3 linked regions of the Homo sapiens genome follow. The protein of the gene in region 1 interacts with the protein of each later gene in a pairwise test. Each region holds a gene or a part of one and is shown in the gene's direction. Other genes may lie near its edges.

What was found.
Region 2: the proteins of KRTAP10-8 (region 1) and APOL6 interact in binary tests that used the Homo sapiens proteins (3 or more experiments, as listed by UniProt).
Region 3: the proteins of KRTAP10-8 (region 1) and TRIM41 interact in binary tests that used the Homo sapiens proteins (3 or more experiments, as listed by UniProt).

The regions. Positions count from the first base shown.
Region 1 is NC_000021.9:44,610,263-44,613,487, forward strand, and holds KRTAP10-8 (keratin-associated protein 10-8), read left to right. Parts: upstream 1-1,816; 5' UTR 1,817-1,838; coding exon 1,839-2,618; 3' UTR 2,619-2,692; downstream 2,693-3,225. UniProt on the Homo sapiens protein: In the hair cortex, hair keratin intermediate filaments are embedded in an interfilamentous matrix, consisting of hair keratin-associated proteins (KRTAP), which are essential for the formation of a rigid and resistant hair shaft through their extensive disulfide bond cross-linking with abundant cysteine residues of hair keratins.
Region 2 is NC_000022.11:35,646,494-35,650,243, forward strand, and holds the start of APOL6 (apolipoprotein L6), read left to right. Parts: upstream 1-1,952; 5' UTR 1,953-2,130; intron 2,131-3,750. UniProt on the Homo sapiens protein: May affect the movement of lipids in the cytoplasm or allow the binding of lipids to organelles.
Region 3 is NC_000005.10:181,233,256-181,236,433, forward strand, and holds the end of TRIM41 (E3 ubiquitin-protein ligase TRIM41), read left to right. Parts: intron 1-157; coding exon 158-180; intron 181-380; coding exon 381-508; intron 509-918; coding exon 919-1,520; 3' UTR 1,521-1,676; coding exon of another isoform or gene 1,677-1,835; 3' UTR 1,836-2,098; coding exon of another isoform or gene 2,099-2,149; 3' UTR 2,150-2,553; downstream 2,554-3,178.

The DNA.
Region 1 (3,225 bases):
TCAGAGACCTTCATGGCAGCCCCTCCCATCAGAGGCCTGGAGGCCTGGGAGGAAAAAGTGGTTTCGTGGGTCCAGGGTCCCCATGCTGTATGCAGCCTGGGTGAAAGGAGCCAATGTACAGCTCAGACTGTGGCTTCAGAGGGTGGAAGCCCCAAGCCTTGGCAGCTTCCATGTTGCGTTGAGCCTGCAGGTGCACAGAAGTCAAGAATTGAAGTTTGGGAACCTCCGCCTAGATTTCAGAAGATATATGGAAACGCATGGATGCCCAGGCAGAAGTTTGCTGCAGGGGTGGGGCCCTCATGGAGAACCTCTGCTACGGCAGTGCAGAAGGGAAATGTAGGGCCAGGGCCCCCACACAGAGTCCCTACTGGGGCACTGCCTAGTGGAGCTGTGATAAGAGGGCCACCATCCTCCAGACCCCAGAATGGTAGATCTATTGACACCTTGCACCATGTGCCTGGAAAAGCTGCTGACACTCAACACCAGCCCATGAAAGCAGCCAGGAGGGAGGCTGTACCCTGCAAAGCCACAGGGGTGGAGCTGTCCGAGACCATGGGAACCCACCTCTTGCATCATTATGACCTGGATGTGAGACCTGGAGTCAAACGAGATCATTTTGGAGCTTTAAAATTTGACTCCCCTGCTGGATTTTGGACTTGCATGGGCCCTGTAAAATCCCTTTGTTTTGGCCAATTTCTGCCATTTGGAATGGCTGTATTTACCCAATACCTGTACCCCTATTTTATCTAGGAAGAAACTAGCTTGTTTTTGATTTTACAGGCTCATAGGTGGAAGAGACTTGTCTTGTCTCAGATGAAACTTTGGACTGTGGACTTTTGGGTTAATGCTGAAATGAGTTAAGACTTTGGGGGACTGTTGGGAAGGCATGACTGGTTTTGAAATGTGAAGACATAAGATTTGGAAGGGCCAGGGACAGAATGATATGGTTTGGCTGTGTCCTTACCCAAATCTCGACTTGAATTTCATCTCCCAGCATTCCTACATGTTGTGGGAGGAACCCAGGGGGAGATAATTGAATCATGGGGGCCGGTCTTTTCCTGTGCTATTCTAGTGGTAGTGAATAAGTCTCACAAGATCTGATGGGTTTATCAGGGGCTTCTGCTTTTGCTTCTTCCTCATTTTCTCTTGCTGTCACCATGTAAGAAGTGCCTGTCAGCTCCCACCAAGATTCTGCGGCCTCCCCAGCCATGTGGAACTGTAAGTCCAATTAAAGCCCTTTTTCCTCTCAGTCTTGGGTATGTCTCTATCAGCAGTGTGAAAATGGACTAATACAGGGGCATCGCACCATAGTTTGCAGATGGAACAGGTAGGGGTGGCAGGGTGGGGAGCCAGGGGGCATTCCTAGCCGAGACACCCATTGTTCAATGGAGCAGAACTCTGGGACAGGTGGAGAACATCTGCTGGTAAAAAAACACCCCACCCCTGGTACCAAATACCCCAATAGCAAAGACATACAGGCAAAGACAGGAGGAAAGTGGGGCTGGGTTTTCCAGACTTGCCAACTCACGATCTGTTCAACTCCCAGCTCCACCAGCAGACACGCAGCATCACTGTGTGTGGTTGCAGGGCACAGACACCTGCAAGTGGTCAGCATCACCCAACCACATGCAGCAGTCCTGGGACCACAGTAACATCCCACAGCAAGTAAACTAATTAGGGTTGCCTGGAGGCAAAGTCTCAGCCACAACAAGGAAAGGGAAGGCTTGTGAGACTCCTGTGAGGAAAATACCCAGGGAGGGTATAAAACCTCAGCAGCCAGGGCACACAAACCCACACACCTCACACCAGCACTCACACCACCCAGTCCAGCACCCACCATGGCTGACGCCTGCTGCACCAGGACGTATGTGATTGCTGCATCCACCATGTCTGTCTGCTCCAGTGACGTGGGCCATGTCAGCCGAGTCTCCTCCCCCAGCACCTGCACTGGCTCCTCCTGGCAGGTGGACAATTGCCAGGAAAGCTGCTGCGAGCCCCGCTCCTGTGCCTCCAGCTGCTGTACCCCTAGCTGCTGTGCCCCAGCCCCCTGCCTGGCCCTGGTCTGTGCCCCAGTGAGCTGTGAGCCCAGCCCCTGCCAATCAGGCTGCACCGACTCCTGCACACCTTCATGCTGCCAGCAGTCTAGCTGCCAGCCGGCTTGCTGCACCTCCTCCCCCTGCCAACAGGCCTGCTGTGTGCCTGTGTGCTGCAAGTCCAACTGCTGCAAGCCCGTGTGCTGCGTGTCCATCTGCTCTGGAGCTTCCTCCCCATGCTGCCAGCAGTCTAGCTGCCAGTCAGCTTGCTGCACCTTCTCCCCATGCCAACAGGCCTGCTGTGTGCCCATCTGCTGCAAGCCCATCTGCTGTGTGCCTGTCTGCTCTGGGGCTTCCTCTCTGTGCTGCCAGAAGTCTAGCTGCCAGCCGGCTTGCTGCACCACCTCCTGCTGCAGACCCTCCTCCTCCGTGTCCCTCCTCTGCCGCCCTGTGTGCCGGCCTGCCTGCTGTGTGCCTGTCCCCTCCTGTTGTGTCCCTGCCTCCTCCTGCCAGCCCAGCTGCTGCCACCCGGCCTCCTGCCTGTCCTTCCTCTGCCGCCCCGCGTGCTCCCGCCTGGCCTGCTGAGGCCTCTGCTCAGGCCAGGAGTCCAGCTGCTGATGGGCACGTCCCCCAGGGCCAGCCGGCTCCGGTCCTGTCCTGGGTTAAGTGGCTGCCCCTACCTGGGATGGGGTCTCCATGTCTCCCCTGTGCTGAGGTGACCTCTCCCTCCTTACTCCCAGGAGCCTCCATCCTCACTGCTCCCCAGCTCTTGCCTTCCAGCAGGTGCCCACCTGCCTGCTGGGTCCCCTGTCCTCCCTCCCAGCTTCTCTGCTCTGGGTCACTTGGCCTCGACTTGAACCTCTCAGCACCTCCTCCTACTCCCCAATAAACTCTCCTTGGTCACCTGATTCTCTTTTCCTGTTGTTCTCCTGGGAGGACACACGGTTTTGAGCTGACATTGGTCTCCTCCAGCCATGACCGTTTCTAGGAGTGAGTTACTTAACCTAGAAGTCACAAGGGACAGTGGCCTAACTCCTCCAGGGGGTCACCAGGTGGGACTCACGGTCACTCCCAGGAAGGCTCAGTCCCGGCTCAGCCCCTGTGACCGGGTCTTCCTGAGCCTGGTCATTCGCTGTAGTGCCCTGGGCTGTGGGGCTCTCCAGGCCCCAGGACCAACCCACCCACTGTCCCA
Region 2 (3,750 bases), on another chromosome or scaffold:
TCCACCTGCCTCAGCCTCCCAAAGTGCTGGCATTACAGGCGTGAGCCACCGCGCCCGGTCCGAGAGTGTGTTTTAAATCACAAGAGACTAAGGGGCCTTCAGGCAAGTTTGTTTCTTTTCAGCAGGTCTTGGGTCCCTTGAGGGAAGGGAAGTGGACTCTAGGAAATTAAGCGACTCCCTACTTTTGTTCATCTGAGCTATAGGGTGGATGTTTTCTGTCCCCTTACATAAGCAGCACTTCCTGCATTTGGCTACAGAACATTTTTCTCACATGGCATCTCTTGGGGCGATTGTTTCACAAGAGCCCTGGTGGTAAACACTGCCCCCATCCAATGGCCGGTCTGGCCCCTGAGACTCCCAGGACCGAGCAGTGACCACAACATCTGGGTCCGTTGCCAGGGAAAACAACAGGCAGGCCTGGGATGGCTCAGCGGCCCCAGCCAGGCAGCCAAGTCCTCCTCAAGGTCAGGCTGTGTTTAGCGTGTTCCCCAAGTGTGGGAGGCCAGGAGCAGGGGTGGGTTGTGGAATCCGGGATGCCACGGTTGGAAAGGCCCCTACAAGACCCAACTCAGCAGCCCTTAACCCCTCATTCCTGCTCGTAGGGCCCAGGGACAGGAGGTGGCCTCTATCACAGCAAAGCCAGGACTGGCTAGGTGGGCCGCACCTTCTGCAAAGCAACAGCCTCCAATGTGGTCTCAGCTAGGGGTGGTGACTGGGGACTTCTGGGCATATAAATACAAACAAACCACATGGCTTCTGATCACAATTTGACACAAATGCTAGAGAGACACAGATCTCAGCCCGTAACCTCACTGTGGGCTCATTCTTGTAGACACAGAGCCTAGGACTGGTTCTTAGCTGTGTAATCACAAACAACCCACAACTTCTAGAAGCCTGGGTTTCCTCTTCCTTAAAGTGGGAGACAGAGTATCACAATCCTATATCTCCAATCCTTGAGGCCAGATGCATGTCAGAGTTCCTGATTTGGGGGATTTTTAGAAAGGTAATGGGGTGCAGGTATCGTGTACTATGTAACCCACGCACCCGCAGCAGCCCTCCTCAGTCAAACATATTAATATTTCTGCAGTGACTGTAAATATTCAAATTAAGCAGGAGACATAAAAACCACAGGTGAATTCATGCCAGATCAGGTCAGGTTTTGCCACTAAATGAATAAATTATCATTTTTTTTTAAGTTTTCATTCTGAGGCCAGGTGCGGTGGCTCACGCCTGTAATCCCAGCACTTTGGGAGGCCTAGATGGATGGATCATTTGAGGTCAGCAGTTTGAGACCAGCCTGGCCAACATGGCAAAACCCCATCTCTACTAAAAATACAAAAATCAGCCGGGCGTGGTGGCAGGTGCCTGTAATCTCAGCTACTAGGGAGGCTGAGACAGGGGAATAGCTTGAACGTAGGAGGCGGAGGTTGCAGTGAGCCGAGATCGTGCCATTGCACTCCAGCCTGGGCAACAGAGCGAGACTTCATCTCAAAAAACAATAATAATAATAATAATAAAATAAAGTTTCCATTTTCAGAGGATTCTGCATTCAGAGTTATTAGCCCTTTAATGCTGTGCACCTCATAGGGTTGTTACCCACATCAGCGTCACGTAAGATGCTGTGGAGGAAAGCAGTTTCAGAACAATCAGTGATGACAGCTACTGTGAATCCACTATTCAACAGGCGCCCCATCGCTTGCTCATGGGCTCCTCACCATAGCTCTAAGCCACAGGAGCTATTTTCATACCCCATATAGGTCCATCCTATAACACAGCCAGGACAGAGACGAGAGACTCAGGCCTCCTGACTTGGATTCTGCTCTTTCACCTCCTTGTTCATCCAATTAGAGAAACTGGCAAAAAGGAAACTGAAAGTGACAGCTGGAGCCCATGATTTCCTGGAAGAGCCCTAGAGCTTTGCTTTTTCTCTCCTGCAGCACTTAACCGAAACCAGTTTTGCAATCAATTCCTGTTCAAAGGCCACCCTACTCTTCCTATCCGTCTTTCTCCAGCCCAGACACTCACAGCCCCCTGCCAGACCAGGGGACCTCGGAGAGGCAAGGACAGAGGTTCAGGATCTTCCTCTCCCTCGGGACCCAAGGCCACAAAGGAGAGCTCCGTGGAGAGAAGGTGAGACGGCGGGCAGAAGTCGGGGGAGGAGGGGGCTGCCGCTCTGGTCCCTGAAGGACAGAGCCCCCAAGGGGTTGGCTTTAGGCACCTGACTCAGGGAAAAGAGCTGCTGTGAAAGCAGCGGGGTTCAAATGCCAGCCAGAGCTTGAGGAGAGTCTGAGGATTAACTTCTCCTGTGTTAATCCTGGTAGGTTTCCCTCCCTTACAGCCATTTCAGGGTTAAATTGAAACATGCTAAAGCATGCGATGTGACTAGCCAAGTTGCATTTGTCCCTCCACTGCTGGGGATCCGAGGGCTTAGGCAGAGGGGACCTGGCCCTTAGAAAGCAGATGATTACATCAGCCACAGGCGTTTCCCTAGAAATTCAGTAGAGGAGTGGTTTAGGGGTGTCATCTCACAAGAAAAAAGGTGCTGGGTGAGTTGTCTAGAAACTGCAAAGCCAACCTACAGAGTTTTCTAGATTGTAGATTTATGTGAAGTTGTTTGGGGAAGAGGGTGAGGGAGTTTGTGATAAATATTAGGGCGACTAGGCCAGGCGCAGTGGCTCATGCCTGTAATCCCAGCATTTTGGGAGGCTAAGGCAAGCGGATTGCTTGAGCCCAAGAGTTTGAGACCAGCATGGGCAACATAGTGAGACCCCGTCTCTACAAAAAATCAAAAAATAGCTGGGCGTGATGGTGCACACCTGTAGTCCCAGCTACTTGGGAGGGTGCTGAGGTGGAAGGATCACTTGAACCCAGGAAGTCAAGAATGCAGTGAGCAGTGATCGCACCACTGCACTCCAGCCTGGGCAACAGAGTGAGACCCGGTCTCAAAAAAAAAAAAAAAAATCTAGGGAGGTTATCTTGAAGCTGTGTTTTCAAAGTAAGCAGATTTTTCTTACTTAGATTGTGTATCTGCAGAAGTTGGTTTTGTGGGGGAAGGCAGGTAAGGAAAGACTGTCATAAATATCCTGTAAGCTTTCAAATGAAAGTAAGTTCTCAAATCCTCTTCCAATAAACCTCTCACAAGCAAATCCTCTCGCAACCACCAAGAGCAGGTCAGAGGGGATGGAATGGGACCTGCTTAGATGAGTTTCCTGCTGTTACCTTTGCCCTGCATCCCATAGGACTAATGTAAAAAAATGAGAGAGGTATTGGCGGACGCTGGTAAAAAATGGGGTTCCAGACCAGAGTCTCTTACCCCCAGCAACCTTGTCATGTTCAACCAGGTGATCCCTGGTTGTGGGGGCTGTCCTCTGCATCGTAGGGTGCTTGGCAGCATCCCTGGCCTCTGCCCTCTACATACCAACAGCAGTACCCTCTCCAGCTGAGACCATCAAAAATGTTTCCAGATATTAGCAGTGTCCCTGAGGAGCAAACACGCCCTGTTTGGGACCAACTACTCCAGACTCTGCGTGGCTGGAATTGCACAGGCTTTCCTGCTTACTGTGTGACACTGGCCTCCCTATGTCTCAGTTTGCACCTCTGTAAAATGGGCATCATCTTAGCACCGATCTCACTGGGTCACTGTGTAAAGCAGGTAGATGTATGTCTGGTGAAAGTAAACTCTTAAAGGTGCCAAGCCCCCTAAACCAAACCTAGCTTCACATACCAAAGAGGGGAGAAGGTTTTTATCTT
Region 3 (3,178 bases), on another chromosome or scaffold:
AATGGATGTGTGTTCATTGAGGGCCGTGAGGGTGCTGCTTCTCCCTTCCTGCTCAGGTTCAGTCTCTGACTGGAGATCGGGGAACGCTGTCCCTGTGCAGCTGACACTCTCTTTATCTCTTTCTCCCTCTCCCTCTTTTTGTTTCTCTTATTCCCAGGACATCAAGGAGACTTTCAATAGGTGTGTTCCCAGTCTTTGCCCTTCGTGACCCAGTGGCATCTGGTTCCCTGTCCCTGCTTCTCTTCGGTATCCCTCTCCTCTCCTTCCTTCCCCAGGACCTGAGTTTCCATCTCCTGGACCCTCCTCTCCTTCCCCTCAGCTTTTGCTTTTCCCTCTGGGAATATCGTGGTCCCACCCCCTGCCCGGTCCCCTTCCTCCAGGTGTGAAGAGGTACAGCTGCAGCCCCCAGAGGTCTGGTCCCCTGACCCGTGCCAACCCCATAGCCATGACTTCCTGACAGATGCCATCGTGAGGAAAATGAGCCGGATGTTCTGTCAGGCTGCGAGAGGTAGGGAGGTCACCTCCACGACCTTCCTTTGCCTTTCCCTTCACAGACCTGAGACTGGGTCCTGAGGGAAGTTGGGCCCCAGGGAAACTGTGGGGCTTGAGATGGAGCAGGATCCAGGCAGCCACTCTGAGGTTGAGGTTTCAAGCCATGAGCAGGTAGACCTAGTGCAGGCAGGCCTGGAGGGTGGGGTGGGGTGGAGTGGCAGGAAGAGCCAGGCTGGGGGAAGACCTGTCAGGTATCCTAGGAACAAGAGTGAGGAGCAAGATGAGCCTGCAGGAATCTGAGGCTGGCCTCTGGGATGGTGTGGGGAGCTGGATTCAGGGAGAAAGGGGGCCCAATCTGTGGAGTTGGCTGCTGACAGGGGAACAGCCGTTCCAGCCCTGGCGTATTTGTCCTCCCTCCCTCCCAAGTGGACCTGACGCTGGACCCTGACACGGCTCACCCGGCCCTGATGCTGTCCCCTGACCGCCGGGGGGTCCGCCTGGCAGAGCGGCGGCAGGAGGTTGCTGACCATCCCAAGCGCTTCTCGGCCGACTGCTGCGTACTGGGGGCCCAGGGCTTCCGCTCCGGCCGGCACTACTGGGAGGTAGAGGTGGGCGGGCGGCGGGGCTGGGCGGTGGGTGCTGCCCGTGAATCAACCCATCATAAGGAAAAGGTGGGCCCTGGGGGTTCCTCCGTGGGCAGCGGGGATGCCAGCTCCTCGCGCCATCACCATCGCCGCCGCCGGCTCCACCTGCCCCAGCAGCCCCTGCTCCAGCGGGAAGTGTGGTGCGTGGGCACCAACGGCAAACGCTATCAGGCCCAGAGCTCCACAGAACAGACGCTGCTGAGCCCCAGTGAGAAACCAAGGCGCTTTGGTGTGTACCTGGACTATGAAGCTGGGCGCCTGGGCTTCTACAACGCAGAGACTCTAGCCCACGTGCACACCTTCTCGGCTGCCTTCCTGGGCGAGCGTGTCTTTCCTTTCTTCCGGGTGCTCTCCAAGGGCACCCGCATCAAGCTCTGCCCTTGATTATCCTGCCACCCGCAGGGGCCCCTCTGTCAGCACTTGGGGGGTGGGTGGTGGAGGGTGGCCCGTAAGTTTGAGGGCTCAAAGGCTCTTCCCACTGCTTGTTACTGTGTTGCTTCCCACTCCCCCTTGACCCCAGGCCCCTGCTTCTCCCTCTAGGAGCCTAAAGAACCCTCCTGGCCTCCAGCTCAGCCTTCTCTCACCTACTATGTCTGTCCAACAGGTCTGCATGGGTCCCTGATAATGAGAACAGCTGCCTGGTCTTCTCTCCCAGTCTGCCTAGCCCAGCCCTGGGACTGGAATTTGAGTAGGGGATGAGGGGAAATTGTAATTTCATTCCTTAACTTCCTTTTCCCCACCCCTGCTCTTCAACCTCTTTATCAGTTCTGAGGCTGGAGGGTTTGGGCAAGGCAACATCCCCATTCCAATTCCATTTTCTGATGCAGATTTTAGCTGAGGGATTTGGAAGCCATTTGGGGAGGCAGGCTGGGCCAAAGGGTAGAGCTGGGTAATAAATGTCTATTCTCCTGGGGAGGAGGGATTCTAAACTTTCCTTCCGTCCTCAATTTCTACCTCCATAGACCGGCCAGAATTTAGCTTCACTTGAGAGAGATCTGGAATGGTCGCCATGATTGAAACCACGCACCATTACATCATCATTACATTAATTACATCAACATAAATTATTTCTTCCCCCTTCCCTTTTCCAGCACTCAACCAAGGAGCAAAGCTCATCCCACCCCACACCCCTCCCAGGTCTGCTCACTGCCAGGCTCCTCTCCCCTTTGTTCAGTGGAGCTGGCTTTTCTCCCAGCCCCTTTCCATGCCTTTCACTCCATTTGGCAAGCTCTGAGGGGGAGCCTGGGGACGGGTTTGGGTCCCCAGGAGGAGAGCCTTGGGTATAATCTATTTTTCTAGGAGCCTCTTGCCTTGTCACTTGCAGCTTTCGCCCTCTGCTTTGATGGCTGAGGTGAACTCATGTTCTTTGGGAAAAGGGAAGGCGTGCTGTGGAAATAAAATGTTTATTTGCTTCTCTTGTGAGGTCTGTTCCTTCAGGTGAGGGTGTAACTCAGGATTTCTTCCTTTGCCGCCCCTGCAGTGAGAAGCCACACAACTGAACTGGTTAGTTGCAGTTAAAGGCATGCTTTGCACCTGTTACCAGGCAGGCTCCTATTTCAACAGGGATGTGGACCCTGCTCCCCATTTTAATATCTTAACCTAACTTACTAACTGTTCAGTCTACTTAGAGATGTTTGCCACACGTAGTTGAAACTGAAGCCAGAAATGCCTCATCACCATTATAAATTGAGGGGAGTAGGAAGTGGAGGGTGCATGTGGGCCTTCAATATGCTGTAGTTGCTTAGCACAGAAAATTGCAAGGGTAGTGGGGTCTCAGCCGCATGTTGAACCATTCCATCCCTGTACTGAGGTTTCTATTGGAAACTGTAATTGTAGTTTAATGGCTCACTTCTGGCCTTTCACAAGGCATCTATCCTCATGAATAAACTGTGTTTGTGTGTAGGGGGATTGAGGGCCAGGTTATAGTAGCAGTTGAAATGTTTAGTAGGGCCAACTTTATGGTTCTATTTATGAATGCTTCCAGACCAACCACCCCAAAACTTTTGACCTGAGGAATAAATTAGTTTTGAATTAAGTTCTTC